5 separate regions of the Homo sapiens genome follow, and regions 1, 2, 3 and 5 are each reported to be linked to region 4. Evidence: microRNA targets listed by miRTarBase, many of them from high-throughput screens and not tested one by one. Region 4 holds a microRNA gene; each other region holds the end of a gene's coding sequence.
Evidence for each region. The annotated mature microRNA hsa-miR-199b-5p reads CCCAGUGUUUAGACUAUCUGUUC and lies in region 4 at 2,673-2,695, shown strand. An mRNA with a match to its seed (bases 2 to 7 or 8) in the 3' UTR can be bound and repressed. Matches are read on the target gene's strand: a 7mer-m8 pairs with bases 2 to 8, a 7mer-A1 pairs with bases 2 to 7 and ends in A, and an 8mer does both.

Region 1: miRTarBase lists ZNF215 as a target of hsa-miR-199b-5p. Seed matches in the 3' UTR shown: 8mer at 2,392-2,399.
Region 2: the mRNA of ZDHHC9 is a reported target of hsa-miR-199b-5p. Seed matches in the 3' UTR shown: 7mer-m8 at 486-492 and 7mer-m8 at 1,500-1,506.
Region 3: the mRNA of C1orf226 is a reported target of hsa-miR-199b-5p. Seed matches in the 3' UTR shown: 7mer-m8 at 885-891 and 7mer-A1 at 1,980-1,986.
Region 5: miRTarBase lists EXTL3 as a target of hsa-miR-199b-5p. Seed matches in the 3' UTR shown: 7mer-m8 at 3,427-3,433 and 7mer-m8 at 1,339-1,345.

The regions. Positions count from the first base shown.
Region 1 is chr11:6,956,225-6,960,327 of GRCh38, reverse strand. It overlaps ZNF215 (zinc finger protein 215), which reads right to left. Exons shown (of 7, transcript NM_013250.4): 7 at 2,281-4,103. The coding sequence ends at 3,797. LOC102724711 (a long non-coding RNA gene) reads left to right here. Exons shown (of 3, transcript XR_002957236.2): 2 at 3,801-4,087. Among named protein-coding and RNA genes, the nearest start is that of ZNF215, 32 kb to the right of the region's middle.
Region 2 is chrX:129,802,602-129,806,717 of GRCh38, reverse strand. ZDHHC9 (zDHHC palmitoyltransferase 9) reads left to right here. Exons shown (of 11, transcript NM_016032.4): 11 at 232-3,430. The coding sequence ends at 348. Among named protein-coding and RNA genes, the nearest start is that of SASH3, 25 kb to the right of the region's middle.
Region 3 is chr1:162,382,863-162,386,978 of GRCh38, forward strand. C1orf226 (chromosome 1 open reading frame 226) reads left to right here. Exons shown (of 2, transcript NM_001085375.2): 2 at 320-3,950. The coding sequence ends at 821. Among named protein-coding and RNA genes, the nearest start is that of C1orf226, 3.2 kb to the left of the region's middle.
Region 4 is chr9:128,243,380-128,247,477 of GRCh38, reverse strand. MIR199B (microRNA 199b) reads left to right here and starts at 2,648; the gene lies at 2,648-2,757. DNM1 (dynamin 1) reads right to left here. Exons shown (of 22, transcript NM_004408.4): 16 at 975-1,084; 17 at 1-103. It overlaps MIR3154 (microRNA 3154), which reads left to right and starts at 2,448; the gene lies at 2,448-2,531.
Region 5 is chr8:28,750,373-28,754,471 of GRCh38, reverse strand. It overlaps EXTL3 (exostosin like glycosyltransferase 3), which reads right to left. Exons shown (of 7, transcript NM_001440.4): 7 at 1-3,815. The coding sequence ends at 3,606. Among named protein-coding and RNA genes, the nearest start is that of EXTL3, 51 kb to the right of the region's middle. RefSeq lists enhancers at 812-1,754, 1,755-2,699.

The sequences.
Region 1 (4,103 bases), not on the chromosome of region 4:
GTGATTTTTTGAATCCTAACTTGCGCTGTTCCCTCCTGTAACTTGACTTTTTAAACGCTCTCAATATATATTGTCAAGTTGGCCCTCCAGAAAGTTAGTAATTATTTGCATTCCCATAGTGGCATGTGAGTTACATTTCTTAAGAGTCCCACTAAAACTGAGTGTTATTATTCCTTTTATATGTTGTCTATCAGCCCAATATGTGATCTTTAAGTTTTTTAGTATTAGTGAAAATAGAACATTTCCCTTGTTTATTGGTTGAGATTGGCATTTAACTTTTTAGACCAGTTTTCCACAGCATGGTCAAATTTTCAAAAAATATATCAACATATATCATATATATTCATATATGTATACATCTGTATATGATATATATGTAAATATTGAATAGTTTCCACTCTAATTTGAAGTGACAATTTACGATATGCTAAATTCTTATAAACACCTAGGTCTAGTTATAAACAATTGTCTCACACATGTGAATAGACTAGTATCACACTATGTTACTAGTAATGTTCTCATTACCTTGCTTTTAAAAAAATGGTCACAGCTATTTTCTTACTTCTACAAAGTAAACTTTATAATCACTTTGTGAAATAAATCCTCCCCATTGAATATCTGATTAGAATTTTTCATTTGTAGTTTAATGTGTGGAGACTCAAAATCTCTATAGTAGTCTTCTCATTCCAGACACAGCTTTCCTCTTATTCAAGATTATTTTTGAGCAAAGTTGCTATATTTACCTTATCTAAATTCATTTATTAAATCTAACAGTTTTTCAACGAATTTTATTAGGTTGTCATGAGTCAACCATATCAGCAGCAAATGATTTTCTCCTCCTTTGGAGTTTTATCTTGTTACTTCAATTAGCATTTTCAGAGTACTAAACATGGAATTAACAACAATTTTATCTCACTATTACCTTTAGGCTGAAGCTCAAACTTCTAAAGTGGCTTACAAGACCTCTCATGATGTGCCCCTTGAGTCTCTCTGTAGCTTTACCTCTATGAAATGAAAGCTCCATTCTTTCCCAATGCTGTATTCTAGTAGATGAACTTATGTTTCCTGAACTTGCCATGCCCTCATCCCTTTATAGCTTTGTGCCCCTCGTTTTGCCTTTATCATCTCTCCTAACATTTCCACACTTGCCAGACACAATCTGGTTAATCTACACTCTTCATGTTTCAGCTTAGATATCGACCTTTGATGGTATATAGTAAAACTCAAATATGTGATGATTAATATTGAGTGCCAACTTGATTGGATTGAAGGATGCAAAGTATTGTTCCCGAGTGTGACTGTGAGGGTGTTGCCAAAGGAGATTAACATTTGAGTCAGTGGACTGGGAAAGGCAGACCGACCCTCAATCTGGGTGGACACAATCTAATCAGCTGCCAGTGTGGCCAAAATAAAAGGCAGGAGAAATTGGAACGACTAGACTGGCTTAGTCTTCCAGCCTACTACTTCGTCCAGTTCCGGATGCTTCCTACCCTTGAACATCAGACTCCGAGTTCAGCTTTGGGACTCTTGGACCTTCAACCACAGACTGAAGGCTGCGCTGTCAGCTTCCCTACTTTTGAGGTTTTGGGACTTGGACTCTTATGTAAAATTGGGACTTGGCTTCCTTGCTCCTCAGCTTGCAGGCAGCCTATTGTGGGACCTCACTTTGTGACAGTGTAAATCAATACTCCTTAATAAACTCCCCTTTATATATACATTTATCCTATTGGTTCTGTCCCTCTAGAGAACGCTAATACAATGTACTAAATAAACAGGCTTGTGAAACAAGGCTGCGAGAAGATGTTAATTGGCTATAAATGCTCTGCAAGAGCTTTAAATGCACTCCAAAAATTATTATTTGAAACTATGTTATGTTAAACTTAGTGAACATAGTAAACACTTTTTTAAGAAAGCTTGGAGATTTAGGAGAAAAAAATAAGTATTTTACTTAGGCTCAAATAGCTAGTTGTTCAAAGAAAAGATAAAGAGTGAAAATAGTACTTCTATCTTTCAACCATCCAAAAGAAAATCACAGCTTATTTTCAAAAATTGAAATATTGGACTTGGAATACCTAAATTTAAAAAGTCAGAATCCATTGTATTTAATGTAAGTACTATGATGAATGAACATACCTCAAGAATTTTTTACATTCAGAGTGCTTTTCTCTTGTTAGGCTTCTCTACAAGTTATCTCTTGTTTATACGAATTTCTATATCAATTACTTATGTAGGGCTTTGTCCTAATAAAACTTGTGTTGCAATATAAAGGATGAACAAACATAGATTTTGACATTATTTAATCATAGGAGTTCACTCCAGTATACCTTTTCTGCCTTTGAATAAGGTATGAACCTTCACAAAAAGCTACCATCATCATTAATTGGGAATGTCTCCAGTGTGAATTTTTTGGGGCAGATTAAGTCATACTTCTTGGCTCAAGAACCAGATGGGATCCTGAGGTAGTTTACAGAAGACACAGTTCTGGTGTACAGAGTATAGGAGACTTTAATAACTTCATAATGTCTGGTATAAATGATATACCTAAGGCTATGGACGTCTCTCCAGCCTAAATTCCCAAAGGTACAGTAAGTCTGCACTGAACATCATCAATAGGTTCTTAGGAACTGCAACTTTAAGTGAAATGATGTATAACAAAACCAATTTTACCATAGACTAATGGATACAAACAAGAGTTAAGTTCCTAAGGCAAATGTCTGGTCACAACATCATCAAACTTCTAAAGACCCCAAACGCTTCCAATATCAGACATTAAAATAAATCTGAGCTATATACACATTTAAGACGGATTAATAAAAACAGATAAGATAATTATTTACCCTGTTATTCCAGTACAGGGCCATGGGTGGACAGAGCGCATCCTAGCAGCTCAGGGCAATGGTGGGAACAAACCCTGATTAGGAGCCATTCCACTGCAGGGCACACTTCCTCACAAACTCAGACTGAGATAATTTAGATATGTCAATTAACCTAATGTATACATCTTTGGGGTTTGAAACTGGAGCACCCGGAGACATAGGGAGAGTGTGCGAACTCCACACAGTGTCCCTGGCTGGGAATCGATATTTTTCTCATCAACATCATAACAATTATAACATTATAACAAAACAAAAACATTTTTCAAGGACCTGCTATAAACAAATGCAGATTTTAAGAATACATATAGATTAACAGCAATACATACTTCTCCCATTGCAGTTGATAACCCTTTCCCAACTCTAGTCTCCATTCAACAGCAAGACAACAAAGGGTATTGTCAGGAGTGGAGTAAATGGCTGTTACTGTTGTCTTAGCCATTGATTCAGAGATTTCTGTCCTTAGAAGTATTCTCTTATATTCGCATGAGCTAATGATTTCTTGTGACCTTCTTAAAAGGGCTGAGTTTTATTAAATATCAACTCCAAGAGTATTGTTTGGCTTTGCCTAATGTCTACTTCGTCAATAAATCAGGTGGATATTAGTATGCTATAGACCTATTTATGAACTAGGGAGAGGTGAGGGTAATGGATATCAAAATAATGATAAACAAATACTTGTATGGTGATACTGTGGTTTAACTCCAAAGCCTTATGGCTTCATCTGAAAACCAGGAAAATTCCTTCAAACAGATTTCTATCCAATGATATTTCTATCCAACATTAATTCTGTGATATCATTTAAAGAAAAATCTGACAAATGTTTTCTTACATTATATTCATGAGATTTTATCCAGCATAAATTCATGATGTTAAATGAGTTCTGCATTCTGACTGAAGGTAATCTTTCATTTTTTCTTTTTTCAGGACTTATCTCGAGTATGCAGTTTTTGATGTTTAACAAGGTTTGAACTCCTGTTGAAGGCTTTACTACATTCCTTACATTTGAATGGTTTCTCTCCCGTGTGAATCATTTGGTGTCGAATAAGAGAGGAGCTCCGGTTGAAGGATTTTCCACAGTTAACACATTGATAGAAATTGTTTCCAAAATGGAGTGTTGGATTATTACTGTCTTCACTTTTACTGAAGGCCTTTCCACATTTATTGCTTGTGCAGGCCTTTGCTTCAGCATGAAGTTTTTGATGCTTAGTAAGGTTTGTACGTCGGTTG
Region 2 (4,116 bases), not on the chromosome of region 4:
AAAAATCTGTCCCCAACCAACAGTTAAGGATCAAACTCAAATAAACTTCAGTTGTGTTCTGCCGAGAAGACGATAGCTTGGTGTTGGTTCTGAGTTTGGTGTTGGTGGCTGCATATCTGTAGCATCAGTGTGATCAGGGGGCTGAGAGGAAGAGTTCAGTGTCTAAGGTTTATCTGCATTTGGATTTTGAGGAACAGCTTTGTGTTGAATCTCATATCTTTTCCTTCTCAGGCCCCCACAGAACACCTGAACTCAAATGAGATGCCGGAGGACAGCAGCACTCCCGAAGAGATGCCACCTCCAGAGCCCCCAGAGCCACCACAGGAGGCAGCTGAAGCTGAGAAGTAGCCTATCTATGGAAGAGACTTTTGTTTGTGTTTAATTAGGGCTATGAGAGATTTCAGGTGAGAAGTTAAACCTGAGACAGAGAGCAAGTAAGCTGTCCCTTTTAACTGTTTTTCTTTGGTCTTTAGTCACCCAGTTGCACACTGGCATTTTCTTGCTGCAAGCTTTTTTAAATTTCTGAACTCAAGGCAGTGGCAGAAGATGTCAGTCACCTCTGATAACTGGAAAAATGGGTCTCTTGGGCCCTGGCACTGGTTCTCCATGGCCTCAGCCACAGGGTCCCCTTGGACCCCCTCTCTTCCCTCCAGATCCCAGCCCTCCTGCTTGGGGTCACTGGTCTCATTCTGGGGCTAAAAGTTTTTGAGACTGGCTCAAATCCTCCCAAGCTGCTGCACGTGCTGAGTCCAGAGGCAGTCACAGAGACCTCTGGCCAGGGGATCCTAACTGGGTTCTTGGGGTCTTCAGGACTGAAGAGGAGGGAGAGTGGGGTCAGAAGATTCTCCTGGCCACCAAGTGCCAGCATTGCCCACAAATCCTTTTAGGAATGGGACAGGTACCTTCCACTTGTTGTATTTATTAGTGTAGCTTCTCCTTTGTCTCCCATCCACTCTGACACCTAAGCCCCACTCTTTTCCCATTAGATATATGTAAGTAGTTGTAGTAGAGATAATAATTGACATTTCTCGTAGACTACCCAGAAACTTTTTTAATACCTGTGCCATTCTCAATAAGAATTTATGAGATGCCAGCGGCATAGCCCTTCACACTCTCTGTCTCATCTCTCCTCCTTTCTCATTAGCCCCTTTTAATTTGTTTTTCCTTTTGACTCCTGCTCCCATTAGGAGCAGGAATGGCAGTAATAAAAGTCTGCACTTTGGTCATTTCTTTTCCTCAGAGGAAGCCTGAGTGCTCACTTAAACACTATCCCCTCAGACTCCCTGTGTGAGGCCTGCAGAGGCCCTGAATGCACAAATGGGAAACCAAGGCACAGAGAGGCTCTCCTCTCCTCTCCTCTCCCCCGATGTACCCTCAAAAAAAAAAAAATGCTAACCAGTTCTTCCATTAAGCCTCGGCTGAGTGAGGGAAAGCCCAGCACTGCTGCCCTCTCGGGTAACTCACCCTAAGGCCTCGGCCCACCTCTGGCTATGGTAACCACACTGGGGGCTTCCTCCAAGCCCCGCTCTTCCAGCACTTCCACCGGCAGAGTCCCAGAGCCACTTCACCCTGGGGGTGGGCTGTGGCCCCCAGTCAGCTCTGCTCAGGACCTGCTCTATTTCAGGGAAGAAGATTTATGTATTATATGTGGCTATATTTCCTAGAGCACCTGTGTTTTCCTCTTTCTAAGCCAGGGTCCTGTCTGGATGACTTATGCGGTGGGGGAGTGTAAACCAGAACTTTTCATCTATTTGAAGGCGATTAAACTGTGTCTAATGCAAACTTCCTGCCTCCTCCTTCCCCCTTCCATTTCAAGAATATGTTTGTGTGTAGGGTGGGGGTGGGGGTTGGAAGGGGTTGCTTGTTACTCCCCAAACTTCCATTAACCAGGGCACCCTTGGGTTGGAGAGGTAGTTCCAAACTCTCCATTGATCTATACTACATTCTGGGCTGAAGGTTTTCTTATTCTGGACTATGAAGAAAGGACTTTCAAGGAGATATAGTGTGAACAGGATCAGGAAGGTAGAGGGATTATATTTACTTAAGAGAACAAGCTCTATATTAGGATATTGTTTTGAAGCAGATGGATGCCGTTAATTGCTAATAAGTCTTAGTTATTAACGCAGGCTCATCAGGGCCCCCCCTTGGAAATATTTGATCAGTGGTCTTTTACAAGTGATGGTATATATTTCTTTCTAGGTGGTGTATAATCAAGACTCCCTATCAATTCCCATCTCATACTTCCCAGTTAATTGGAATTAATGAAATTTGGCTGCTCCCAGACCTTTTTCCATGTCTTCCTTTTTCCTTTTAACAGGATTTAAGTTGAGCATTCTTGAGAGAGAGAGAGAGAGAGAGATTGGAAGAGAGATGGGGAGAGACTGACTCAGATCCCTCTCCTGTCTGCTTCTTTTTCTGGTTCTCTCAGTTTTTTTTCTTGAAGTTATAAAGCCAAACCTGGAGAATTTGTAAGTTGTTAGGTTTCCCCAGGTAACTTGGCACTCATATGAACCCCATTTTAATAAGTACTCAGCCCATCTCCTCTCCTGGGCTCAGATGGCTCTCTCTCCTCCCTCACCTTACCTCAAGTGTTCTCCTGAGGACCCTTAGGTCAGACAGAGAAGCTTTCTCTTTCTGATGGGAAGGGTCAAAGTGGAAATCTCTTATCTCTAGTGTGAAATGATTTTCTGCTTTTTCATACTCCCTGCCCTCTTTCTTTTCCTTAATAAATCTTCCATGTTTAAGATGTTGGCCTGAAGATCTGTCCCATTCATACCATGCACCAGCTGGGACTGTCCCTATCTGATCAGAGGGGAGATTAAAGAATCAATGTTCCCAGGGGAAAAGGGCCTTAAATTGTTTGGTCTTTTCAATGGCTGACACTGTCTCCAACTCTCCCCTTCCTCCTTCTTCCTCAAGCTTCCTATGCACCCTACTTTCCCAGGCCAGGATGGTTGGCACTGATCCCAAACCTCTGGGGGCAGGTGGAAATTGGCTGTGGTGAGCCATTTCTTCATGTCCATTCAGCTCTGAGGCCTTCCTGGCCCTAGCTGAGATCATCATCTCCTCCTTTGCTTTTACCCCAGGAGTGAGGTTGGGTTAGAGGTGGATTCTGATTCCGTAGCAGCTAAATTCCATTCTCCCTGTCCTGACCATCCTGCCTTTACCCATAAAGCACCCGTTCCTACTGACCAAATCTCTTTACTTTGTTGGAGAAAAAAAGTATTTTGTTTTTAAATCTATTTTCTAATTTAAATGCAATTTAATATGTAAATCTCTGCACTTTTGTGTGAGCCTACAAATGTGTATGTGTTGGGGGTTTTTCACTCTCTGGTATTTCTTAATAAAGAAATCTTTCTTTTGGGGGGAAGCCAATTAATGAAGGAGCCTTGAATGGTTTTAGAAATACAGGGCTGTCTGTTTCTTTGTGCTTCTGCCTCATTTCTTTACTTGTGCCTAGTGTGAGTGATTGGACTCCCTCCCCCACCTTTTGACCCCCTTCCTCTGAGAGGGCCCTCAACTTAGTGGGGGCAGAGAGAAGGACCTGTCCTGTATCTGGTACCCCTCTGGGACCACTTGGATTGGCTCTAGTAGTAACCTAGCAACCCAGCCCCCTCCCCTCTCCCCATGGCCTGGCCCTGTTAGTCCTTTTCTTCCAGCTCAGTTCATTTTATACTCCTGAGTTGGGGCCAGGCCAGGGGAAATCACCAAGGGAGCACAGTAAATGGTTTTAAAAAAATGATAATTCGTTCTCATGCCTTGGTGCTACTAAAGAAGAGTCATGTTCCCAGTAATTCAAAAAGCATTTGTGTCAGTTTGGAGAATACATTCTAGGAATCTCTTGCTGTTCTTGGTGATAGGCTTTAGAAACAGTGTCAAAGGCTACAACTCTGAATATCATTTGTTTTAAAGGATGCAAGCCCAGCTCACAGAAAAAAGAATCATTATAAACTTTATATTTGGGATTAATATGAAAGGGCAATGGGAACTGCAAATCTACATCAGTAAAACTTTCAATGTTCTGTACGTTAATGTAGGTGGAAAAACCTGGTATAATTAGCTAGACCTAATTATTTTACAAATGAACACAAAATGTTTTTACAGTTTTAATATATA
Region 3 (4,116 bases), not on the chromosome of region 4:
CATTCCCTGTTTTAAACACAGGACTTACTGCCTGGGTTCTGATTTGACAAGCTTCACCAGCGGTCTCTATCCTGTCTTCTAGAGGCCAGCACTTTGTGCTGCTCTGAACACTGAGTAAGCATGGACCAGGCCAAAAGCTACTGTTATGCTGAAATTGCTAAGGCCTATGTGCCAAACCAAGAACCAGAGCCCAAGGAGTAGAGCAGTTATTGGGTGGGGTGGGTTGAAAGTGCAGTTGGAGTTGGAGAAGCAAGATGGCAGGTGGATTGGTGTCTTGCTGTCCTTAAGGCATGTGTGTTTATTGTCATTAACCTTACAGGTCAGTCCTGCAAGAAACATTTCCTCGGCTGGATCCTCCACCTCCCATAACCAGAAAGCGAACCCCTCGGGCCCTGAAGACCACCCAGGACATGCTGATTTCATCACAGCCTGTCCTCAGCAGTCTGGAGTATGGGACAGAGCCATCACCTGGGCAGGCCCAGGACTCCGCTCCCACTGCCCAGCCTGACGTCCCAGCAGACGCTTCACAGCCAGAGGCCACCATGGAAAGAGAAGAGAGAGGCAAAGTTCTGCCCAATGGAGAGGTTTCCCTGTCAGTACCTGACCTAATCCACAAGGATAGCCAGGACGAATCCAAGCTAAAGATGACTGAGTGCAGAAGGGCCTCCTCCCCCAGCCTTATCGAGAGGAATGGCTTCAAACTCAGCTTGAGCCCCATCAGCCTGGCTGAGTCCTGGGAGGATGGCAGCCCCCCTCCTCAGGCACGGACCTCCAGCCTCGACAATGAGGGCCCTCACCCAGACCTGCTGTCCTTTGAATAGAGCCTCTGCTCTTTCCTGCTGAGCTCTGCCCTTGTCTTCCTGCTGCTTTCTCCTCCACTGCGCACACTGGCCCTGGCCTCAACTCCGCTGTGCCCTTTGTCTTCCTTGTATGAGGCACCAGCAGAGAGCCAGTCGTCCATCATGGGATTTTGCAGGACTGGAAGTCCTTGAGTAGTTCTAGTTAAAGAGTCTATCCGCAGAATGGCTGAAGGACTTGATGCCGTTTTGAGCCTAATTTTCTGTAACCTCCTCTGAGTGGGCTGCAGCCCTTGGACATTAGAGCTCTTCCACTCTTGAGCTTGTCCTGTCTTCTCAGTGAATTGCAGGGCCACCAGCTCAGGACAATGGATCTTACAGGAATTCTTTTTGCCTGTCCCCTACATGCGCCTCCTCCCCTGCTGTTCTCCCTCCCACACCCCTGTCCCTTCTCTCTCCTCCTTGATGGGTCCGATGCCCCTGGCCTCAGCGGGAGGAAGGCTGGATGAGGAATGATGTGTTTGGCTTGATGACAGGCCATGGCCTAGAAAGCCACACACCCTGACCACAGCCCAGCCATAGCTCCTCTTGGTCCCAGGACAGTGCAGGCCCCTGGTTGCCATGTTTGCTCTGCCCCTGGGGTGGAGGCCAGAGGAGATGCTTACCAGGCCTGAGACCTTGAGAGTTCACCCAGGGTTTGAACGCTGCCACCCAGGGTTCCCAAGGTTTCTCCCATCTGGTCAGATGTCGAACACAAAATGTGGGCATTCTGCACGGAAGGAAAGATCAGGCTTCTCTTGCTGAGTGTGTGAAGACAGGGAGAGCCAGGCCCCAGCAGATGCGGCCTAGCACACTCTGATTTGGTTTTGTGGGGAGGGCCCAGGAACTTGGGGGTGGTCTTGGCATTCAGAGCTGGTGCTAAAAACCCAGAGCAGAAGCAGGGAGAAGGGAGTGAGGATGGGACAGAGAAGAGCGACCACTGGGGATCAGAACAGCTTTTCAGGGGCCACCTTGCAGCCTAAAATAATGCCGTTTCAGGGCCTGGGCCTGCTGTGAGAGCCAGAATGAAGCATGTACAAGATTGGAATGTGAGAAGAACTGTGGGGGGAAACCAGTTTTAATTAAGTGGAAGTGCTTTGTGCTTGTGCTGAAGTTGCCTGGGCCTCCTGCAGCTCTGGACCTCACTGGAGCGGCCCCGCCCTGCCCTTGCCTGCCTTTCTTTTATGCTGATGCTGGTGGGCTTTTTCCTGCTTCAGGATCCATGTAAGGGACTGACCAGGTTCATCCAGCCTTAACTGGTTCCTGCAACCCACTTTTAGGTCTCCCACCAGGGGCCTATTGTGCTGTCTTCCTGTGACCAGCAGATCCTGTAAGGGGGTGATCCTAATTCTGGGGCTCTTTGCAGCAAGAGGAGAACGTTCTTTTTCTTGAACAAGGTGGCCGGTTCCCTGGGAGAAGGCTGGGAATGGCACGTCCGGCCAGGGCAGGCGGTGCGGCATCCTCCTCCTGGGATTCCTGTGGCCTCCCCTGTTCTATTCATTGTTTGGCTTCCCACCCATAAGCTCTGGGATACCCAGGGCTTGCTTCCCAGCTCTTCTCATCTCCAAGCCTCTGCTCCCCTTCCCACCACCACTGCCATATAAAATGGCCATGCTAACTCCTACACAACTAGGAGCCTCAGCAGGATTGCTAGGATGTGGGTTCCTTCCTGCATGCTTGCTTCTGCAGCTGTGTGGCCTTGCCATGGCCCTCCCACCACTTTCCCTTCTACCTTGCCTTCCATTGTCTTCCTTCTCCCAGAAAGCCAGGTTTCACCACGTGCTCACCACAAACTGTCTCCCCTCCCTCGTAGGAGTCACTGCAGTAGGGCACCTGCAGGCCCTGGTAGAGTGAGCAGGGCTTACGTGTACATTCTTTCTCACTCTAAGGATGTGATATCTGACCCTGATGTCAGAGAGGAGGTCTCAGGACTAGCATTCGGGGTCCTTTGAGTGTTCCCAGAATGGTTTGGGGTATCACACAAAACACCAGAGCTGAGGATAGGGATAGAGTCCCCAAACACACATCCTGGGAGCAAGCCACTTCATCTGAGCTTCCCATACCAGGAGCATGGTTTGTGCTTTGATGGGAAACCTAGCAAGCCCCTGCACTCTGGGGCTTCTCCTCTCCTGGAGCCCAGGGCGGCTCTGGCCCGATGATATGGCAGCCATAGGTACAGGTATTGCAGGTGCAGCCTTTCTTAAGTACCCTGCCTCCACTCTATAGCCCAGCTGCTGCTGGAGTCCAGGACCTTAGACCCAGGATGAGCAAAAGGATCCCACCAGGTTGTCCAGGACCATTGCCAGGGTGACCCCAGAGTTCTTCAGACCTGTGTCTGATACTGAATACAGTGCCATGGGACCCTGCTCCAATCTAACTGCCTACAACCTGCCCGTCCCCCTGCTGCAGGGATGTTGCTGCTACCTCGGGAGGCTCTCTGAGACTGGTGTCTGGTCTTAGATGCTGCACATAGTACCTGGTGCTAGGGTCTAGGGGCTGCCCAAAGCCCAGCAGGAACAGCTACTACTCATCCTGCAGAGGCCTTGGCCCAGACCAGCTTTCCATCCAAAGCCTCACCTGGTTTCCATGTCCATCTCAACAGTCTGGCCTTCCTGTGACTGTAGCCTGGCAGCCACACCCTCAGTAATCCCGCACAGTGAGTCCAGCTTCTCTGGGAGCTTGGCCTTCAGTTAGCCCAGTCCATGAGAGGGCAGGGTAATGAGGAGGAGTAAAGGACCTATCTTCTCTGTCCACATAAGGAAGTTGGGACCACAAGGTCTTTTATCTCCTTGTTACTCCCCAACCCCACCATAACCTCCTACTCAGCACACAGCTGTATCCTGGTAGATTATAAGGTGAGCTTCCAGAACCTGGCAGGAGGCTGGTGTATCCCCCTGCACAGAGGGAAGTGTATCTGAATGTTGTGTATGTGGCTGATATGGAAGACATACATGTATGCAATCCATCAGCGTTTAAAGAAGAAGATTGGCTCCAGTTCGGAGGAGGAGGAGGAAGATTACAGATCTATTCTGAGTATTTTTTAGAGAGTTAATATTTATATTTTTAGTAATTTTCTGGTAGAAGGAAATTGCACAATAAAATGATTTGGTTTGGTTTGCTGGCTTTGTCTGTTTTTCCTCCTGACTGATGGGGAGCAGTTGGTTTCCTCAAGGCTGACTTGTTGGCTGAAGTATGTTGGCATTTTCCTTTGTAAGCCTGGAAAAGTGAGAAATGAGGGAGGTAGAATGTGAGGAAGATGGGCATTACCGACACCTCCAGC
Region 4 (4,098 bases):
CTCAGGGTACACGCCAGCCCTCAGGAAGGAGGCCTTCCAGCTGTCCACCTCCTCCTGTGTCTCACAGGCTAGCTCCAGCTGCCGATAATCCTTGTAGACATTCCTGCAAGATAGGGCAGGCAGTGAGGGCAGATGGGCAAAGTCTGACCCTCCCTGGGGGTTAAGGGCATGCCCAGACTTTGGGGTCAACATGCCTGAGGCCAGCTCATTTCCCAGCTGTGTGACCCTGTGCAAGTCCCTTCCTCTCAGCCTCAGTTTCCTCACTGGGAAGATGGGTTAATAATAATTCCTGCCTCCTTGGGTCACTGAGGATTCAGTGAAGTGAGTGGTAAAATGCTTAGAAGGGGACTGGACCTTTGACAAGAGGACAACCATAGTCAGTGAAGTCTCTAGCTTGGGGCCCAGATCCCACCAGCTTTCTCCGTGGCTCTCTAAGGACCCCTCTGATGGCCGCTGGACTGAACTCTCATCTCCGAGTAGCAGAGGGCCCACTAGAGTCAGCCTTGGGTCAGGAAGGAAGAGGACTAGTACTGCCACCACCCTATAGGAAAGAGAGCAGGAGAAGAGGACCAGGCCTGACTAGGGCCCTTTGGCTCCAGTGCCTGGCAGAGTGTCTCATGAAGAGCATGCACTATACCAGTGACTATGGAAGGGAGGAAGGGACGGAGGGAGGGAGGGAAGGGGAGAATGGAAGGAAGGGAGGAAGGGAGGGAGGGAGGAAAGGAGGGAGGATGGAAGGAAGGAAGGGAGGAAGGAAAAGAGGGAGGGAAGGAGGAGGGAAGGGAAGGGGAGGGGATGGGAGATCTTGACATGATGTCTAGCTCAAAGCAGGAACTCAATAAGCATCTGTCAGTGGATGGCTTGCTGTGGGGCCTAGGGGAGGTTCCTCTCCTCCCTGGATCCCTGTACCCAGCTTCTACTCAGTGAGGGTGGTTTTGGGGCTGCAGCAGCCACAGCCAGGGGCAGGCAGGCACCTCTGCTCCGTGTTAAAGAGGGCAAAGATATGCTTGCTCGACATAAAGCCCTTCTCCACGTCCCGCAGCTTGAGGTTGTCCACAGACAGCATGTATTTCTTCTCTTTCTCCTGTGGGTGCAGGTAGGAGCAATGGGGTGAGGTTGGCACTGTTCTCTGCCACACCTCACTCTCTAAGAGTCCCCCTGACTGGCCCAGGGCTTCTAAGCATCAGCCCCCTCCCACTGCGAAGGTGCAGCTAGATAAAAGCCTGGCCACGGACCGTAGGCCTCCTGGGCACCGCCGACCCCCGCAGAGCCAGTCCTACCAGCTCTGCATATATGCCGGGGGCCAGGGGGCTGGTGAGGGGTGGGGAGGCTGAGAGTGGCTCCCAAAATCCCTCCCCAGGCAAGTCCTGGATACAAGCCAGGCCAGCCTCAGGCAGGGACCGCACACTCAGGCCTCTCTCACCCCCGGCCTGGCCGCCTCTGACTTCATTTCCTGACTGCAGAGACCAGGAAGGGGGGCCACCAGACCCGGCGGCTTCAAAGGGCCGGCTCAGCCCACTCCCCCGAGCTCCCCATGTGTTAGCAATAAGGCAGCCAGCACAAGCCTGGAGATGGTGTGCCTGTGTGTGCAACATGTGTGTAGTTGTGTGTTTGTGCCAACACATGCAAGCCCAAGTACATATCCTATCAGCTATTGTGTGTGTGTGCACATGTGTATCTGGGGAGGTGCCCAGCATGAACCATGTGTCGGTGTCAGCGTGTCTGCATCTCAGTGTGGATGTGTGCACACTTTGTGGATGTGTGTGGCAATTGTGCGAGCCTACATGTTTGCAGAGCCATGCCTGTGGACTTATACTGGGGTACACATCTTACCTGCACACCGTGGTACAATGGGCTGTGTGTTTGATTTATCTAGAGCTGTCTGGGAGGAGTTATGTGTATCTGTGCACAGGCGTGTGGGGTGCTAGGCCCATGTGTGTGCTCGGTGTGGGCACATGTGTATGTAGGCTGCTGTGTCCCAGGGGAGGGGTTCAGGGATCTAGGGAGGAGGTACCCCAGGATGGGGCTCTGGGAGAGGGGAGGGGTTTTTGTCACCCATGCCCTACTTGTTCACGGGGGTCGTCTGTGTGGGCCTCGGGGACTCAAAGAGGTTGGGCATGAGCCTTGCCTAGGATCTCAGGTGGGGGGCTGGGTTTAGGGGGACCTTGCTCCCCCGTCCTGGCGTCATCCCGCCCACCCCTCTCTGCCCCCAACGCCCCCCTGGCCCATGCAGCCACATAAAGCCCTCTTTATGCCAGGCGGGTGGCCGGGAGCCCCAGAGGGCGGCTGGGGGAGGAGAGGAGGAAGTTGCACACACGGCCAGGGAACATCTGGAACCGTTCGAGAGAGGCCCCGCCACCACCCGCCCTGTGCTTCGGGGTTGGACACTAGGTAGGAGCGGCCTCCTCCCCCCACCCCTCCCTTCCTGCCGGCCGGCCCCCTCCTCAGGCCCCTCCTTCTCAGCCCCAGCTCCCGCTCACCCCTGCCACGTCAAAGGAGGCAGAAGGGGAGTTGGGAGCAGAGAGGGGACCACGGGCTGGCTGGTCTGGGGCTAGGGGGACACAGGCTGGGGTTGGGGGGTTCTCGGATCTCCAGGGGATGGGGCTGAAGCGCCCACCGGATGGACAGACACTGCTGCCTGGATGGACCAGAGGACACCTCCACTCCGTCTACCCAGTGTTTAGACTATCTGTTCAGGACTCCCAAATTGTACAGTAGTCTGCACATTGGTTAGGCTGGGCTGGGTTAGACCCTCGGCACCGCCGCCACTGGAGAGCTGGACCGACCCCTGCCTGCCATCCCAGAACCGGAGCCTGGAGCCAGGGGGTTGGGGCACAGGGCGGGCTGGGAGGAGGCACAGATGGATGGGGGTGCCACCCTGTGTGGGACTGGTTGGGGGTAGCGGTGATGGGGGAAGGGTGGCCGAGGAAGACTGAGAGGATGGGGGGGTCAATGGGGACTGGGGATGTGGGCAGCCGCCGGTCTGCCCAAAGAGCCTCCCTCACCCCAAAACCTGAGGGCTGGTGGTTGAGTAGAGAAGTACAGACCACTCTCCCACCAGCCTGGACCACCTCCACATCCCCAGTGGTCCTAGTGCAAGAATCCACTCACATTCAACACACACGCACCTTGACACTCACAGCCCCAGAACTCACACACATGAGCACCCCCACACTTTCAATCTCACACCCATGTCCCACACGGACACACACAAGTGCATGCACACACACCCATACACACCCTCACAACTGGAACACTCCCCCCATCCTCACATCCCAAAGACATACACAGATTCTCAAACACCCCATACTCACACCCTCCCTCCTAGAGCCCCCTCCCCACACACACCTGCTTTTACACCCCAAGCACAGGCAGGTGCCCAGAGTCACTCCCCAGGCACACAGATTTCACCCCCAGATGCAAATGCAGACCACATATTCCAAACACACCTAGATGCTTATACTCCAATCACACTCCTAAAAAACACCCACACACCAGACCCACAAGCCACACACACACACACACACACACACACAAACACACCCCGCCTCCCAGCACCCACAGCCCACAGCTGACTCCCATCTCCCCACATATGATTCTCAGAGCTGTTTTCGCACACGACTTAACTCAGATGTACACAAAAGCTCCAGAAAGGCCTGCAGGCTCAGGCATGAGATCAGGGGACCCCCTCAGTGGCACGTGCCCCTCCCCCACAGTGTCACCCGGTCTCCGGCCCTCAGCCCCAGGTCACATGGTCTCCCTGGCCCTGAGTAAGGAACCTCAACATGGGAGACCCCAAACCCATGGGGGCATCTAGGGAGCCTGCAGAGAGACCGGCAGGAAGCCACCCCCCACCCGCACCCCATGCCACTGCACACTCCATCCCTTCCAGGGGCCCCCATGGTGGGGGAGGCCAGGGTTGGGGTAATGAGGTCCAGATGGCTTGGCGCCCCCGCCAGTGACGACAGAGGGCCCCTCCCAAGGTGGAGAGTTGGGGCCCCTGCCCAGGACAAACTTGGAGGAGACAGGGACCTGGGAGGGGGCTTGGAGGCCAAAATCACAGGCCCCACCCAGAGCCCCGCTCCCCCGTTGAGGATG
Region 5 (4,099 bases), not on the chromosome of region 4:
AGCTGCTGCAAACTTGCCTGATCAGTCGTGAACCCCACTTGAGGAGGGACACCGACTGTTAAGTCTCACCCATTCTTAGGACTGTCAGTGTGACCAAAGCTGCCACCTGCAGAGCCCAGGAGAGGAGTCCTCGCCTTTACCCCCTTTCCCATCTCCATCCTTCTCCCCGAAGCCCACAGCTCAGTGCCCTCTCCTGAGGAAGCCTCTGATCCCACAGCCAAGCACAAGATCTAGGCCTGTGGGCACCAACAGGATGGGGCTCTGCAGTCAGGGAGCGTCAGCTCGGTGCAGGTACAGGTGCCTTAGTGACCTATAGGTCAGGGGCATGACCTATGGACCGAATCGAGCCATTCACAGTGAGGCCTCACCTGTCCTGGGATCGCAGGCACACACAGCTCCCCACAACCACTACACACACACACACACACACACACACACGCATTTTAAATTCCCATGAAAAAATTAACTTTGCATATATGGGCCACATGCCCTTCCACATCCTGCTTAAAGCACCTCAACAGCCCCTAAGTTCCTGTTTTGTCAAAATGACTTGCCCTGGAACCGGGCACAGGCAAGGCTGCCCATGTGAGTGTGAGTCTGTTCACCCATCTCTGGTCCACAGCCCACACCAGGGCCTGGTCAGGCTGCCTCCCATCGTCTTCTGCGAGCAGGCCCAGCTGGCATACACAGGTGGCGACCTGGAATCAAGCAATCAAGCAGGTGCCTTCTCTCAGGTCACTCTTCCATACTTGCTGAGGAAAACCACAAAAGACCTCCAAGCTGCTTGAGTTAAAGTCTCCATTTATTTTTATTTTTTTACAAAAATCCAATGTAAGACCATTGTGCTCGTGACGAAAAGGGGTGGGGTGGATGGACGTGGCATGGATATCAAAGCTTCCCCCCACAAACTAGGAGCTCCCCACTCTGTCCGGCGCAGCTCCCAGAAAGATCCCATCCTTCCGGACAGGACCCCAGCTGGTGAGCCCTGGCCTGAGGCACAGTCCACACGGAGGAGCACTGCCCAGGGAGCCAGCGCTCACAGTGGCCTGCAGAGCCCTGGGACGGTGTTATGGTAAGACAGCCCAAACCGGAGCAGCAAGCCGGCCACCCAGAGAACGAGGCGCTCCTGCACCCTGCGAGCCAGGACAAGGTGGCCAGGGGCGGCCCACAGACAGCCAAGGAGACCCGGGGTCTGTGGCGCCGCTTTCCCATCTCAAGCGAGTCACAGGTCGGCGGCTTTCCCGTGGTGAGAAGCACCTGACCAGTGACACTGTGGCCACCTTGCTGCCTCTCGCTGAGGAGGGCGTGCCCCTCAGAGCCTGTCTGCAGTCCTTCAAGCCAGTGTTCCTTTCAGGGTCAAGGAGGGCTGTCCTTGTTGGAAGCACCGGCACCACAGCCCTCCCTGCGGCATGTTTTGGTGTCAGACCACTCAGCCCTTCTTAGATCCACCAGTGACATTCGGGGCCCGACAACCTGGCTCCACTAAAGGGAGAGGCCCTGGCTCCACCACACAGACGGCCCCAGCTCACTGAGTCCCGCTAAAGGGGGTCCCACCACACAGACGGCCCCGGCTCACCGAGTCCCACTGAAGTCAGTATGTGAGTTCCTCACATTAAAAGAAACCAGATGAAATAGCAGCCACAATATAGCGCCACACACCACACTCTTTGGCTCCCCGAGGGAAGAAGGCTACTGCTAAAAGGAATACAAGTCAGGAGTCAGGTAGAGGGCAACTAGAAAGTTCTGAGGAAGGGCGTCTGACCCCCACTGCTGGGAACATAACCACACTGCCTCAGCAGGGGAGCTACAGGCTGATGCTGGGGTTGGGGGCGGGGAACCTTTGGAAACACAGTCCTGGCGGCGGCCGGGTCCGGTTTGCCAATGGGGAGAGTTCCCTTAAGCCGAGCTAGCCCTACAGGTGGGTGGGAGCTACACAAAAGAGCCCAGCTTCAAAACAGTACTTGAAGAGGACCCACGTGGTACAGGCAGGTCAGAGGAGAACGTATTCCAAGAAATAGAAGCACAGGATGCCAAGGTCTAGGGAAGACGGAACTGGCTTAAGGCATGTGCATGACCAGGACAAACCTGAGCTTTTGTTCAGTTGCTAGAAAACTTCCAGAGTCAACTCCACTTCCAGAAAGTAGGGTTCAAGAAACACGTCATGGGCTAAATCCCTGACAAATGCCACTCACACCCTCCTAGGTTCCCCTACTGCCACCGTGACCCAAAAAATTAGCTTATTTCAGTTTCAGCCCAGGGAACAGAATCCTAAGCAGGGAGTGGAAAGTGGTAACTCGGGTTGTGAATGCCCGTTAGATTCCAAGGCTGGATGTGAGCTTACACAGCAAATCACAGCCTCCCATTGTTCTAGCACATACCAAACCTCGGGGAGTCCTACAGCCAAGCTGACATTAGGGGTCCAAAAACCACAGATAACACAGGATGGGGCTCCAGACAGAGGCGGGGGGAAGGTGAATTTCACCAAGGAATTATCCCAAGGCAGGCGCCTTGCTGTAAAACTTCCCGGCCAGCCGGGTGGGTTCCTCGAAGGACACTGGCTTGCTCTACACTAGGGAGAGGAGGCTGACCTGCAAACCACTTCAGACCACAGCAGATGTGCACGCTGCTGATCTCCTGTCCAATCCAAGAAAGAGCACTTCAGAAACGCCTGAGGCCCACAGCACGTGTGTTTCAACAGAAGAGCAGGATAGAAAGAGCCATCTGGGAGTGGCGTCTTCAGCCCCTATTCTTTCTCACTCTTTGCTTCCTCATTCTCTCTCAAACAAGAGAGAAATGGGAGAGCAGGGATAAGTACGGAGGCAAGCCTGGCCTAAAGATAAATCCTCAAAAATCGCTGGCCCCAGCAGCAGGAAGCTGAACAGCCCACCAGGGTCAGGCGCTCCCAGGGATTCACTGGGAAGAGAATGTGAGTTACAGGTTGCTGACTGGCAACAGAAAGGGTAAGGAAGAGACCTTGTCCAGGCCCGCAAGAGGGCCAAGTTCATCCCTTTCTGGTTGCTGCACACAGATGGCGCTGGGGAGGATGGGAGATGATCTTTAAGGATAAGCCAGTGACACAAGGCCAGGACCCATCTCCGCCAGAATACAGAACAAAGGAGCCTGCGCGGTCCCTCCCTTAGAAAGGCAAAACTCACACTCCCCCAGCCAAAAATATATATGTATGCAAGTGTGTGCATGTATTTATATACACACACATATATATAAATAAGCCTTGAATGGCAAATCTGAAACTTTCTCTTTTTAAATAATCATAATAGTTGTTATTGAATGTAAAAACCACGAACCAGCTGTCCTGGGCGTACGAACGGTGTGAGTGACTCTGCAGAGTCGCCACAGTCCTCAGTGTAAGCTATCAGTCAGTGCCCTGTGTGGGGAACCCCGGGGACTCCGCCCAGGGCTCCAGGCCCAGTGTGGCTGACTTCAAGATAAAGGCAGCGGTTTCCTTCCACTCCTCCTGCTGCCCCTTCCAGCAGAGGCTCTGGGCCACCCACCAGCAGATGTGCCCAAGGTCCTGCAATGCCTAGGAACCTTGGGAGCCATCTTCCTCCCTCTGCTCATCCTCTTCCCCAGACCGTGCGCTGCCCCTAGATGAACTTGAAGCACTTGGTCTTGTCATGGGGCAGGCGTGTCTTGAAGAGCACAGAATCCACCCTGAACTGCGTGTACAGGAGGGGCATGTAGCCGTACACCTTCACGAAGAAGTTGATGCACTTGTGCCGCTCGTGGAAGTGGGAGTCATCATGAGACAGGGCCTGAGGGCATCCTGGGCATCGGAATGTCCACCGTGAGGTCACCTGGAAACGGGAGAGAGAGACAGAGTGGGAATCCCAGCTAATACTGACAGAACCCTTGCAGCTGAGCCGATCCCACACTCCCATGTCCATGGTGAAGACGCTGATCCCCTCAGGGGCAACATCCCTGCAGAGCATGGCAGGAACCAGAGCCCGGCCCCAGGCCTCCTGCCTACCAGATGTCTCCAGAACATTGTCAGGTATTCTGTTGAGATGGCCTACGCTTCTCAGATGCCAAAAGCCTTAACGTGTGTAGTGTCAGCTGTCTCAGTAAGTCTACTCCTAGT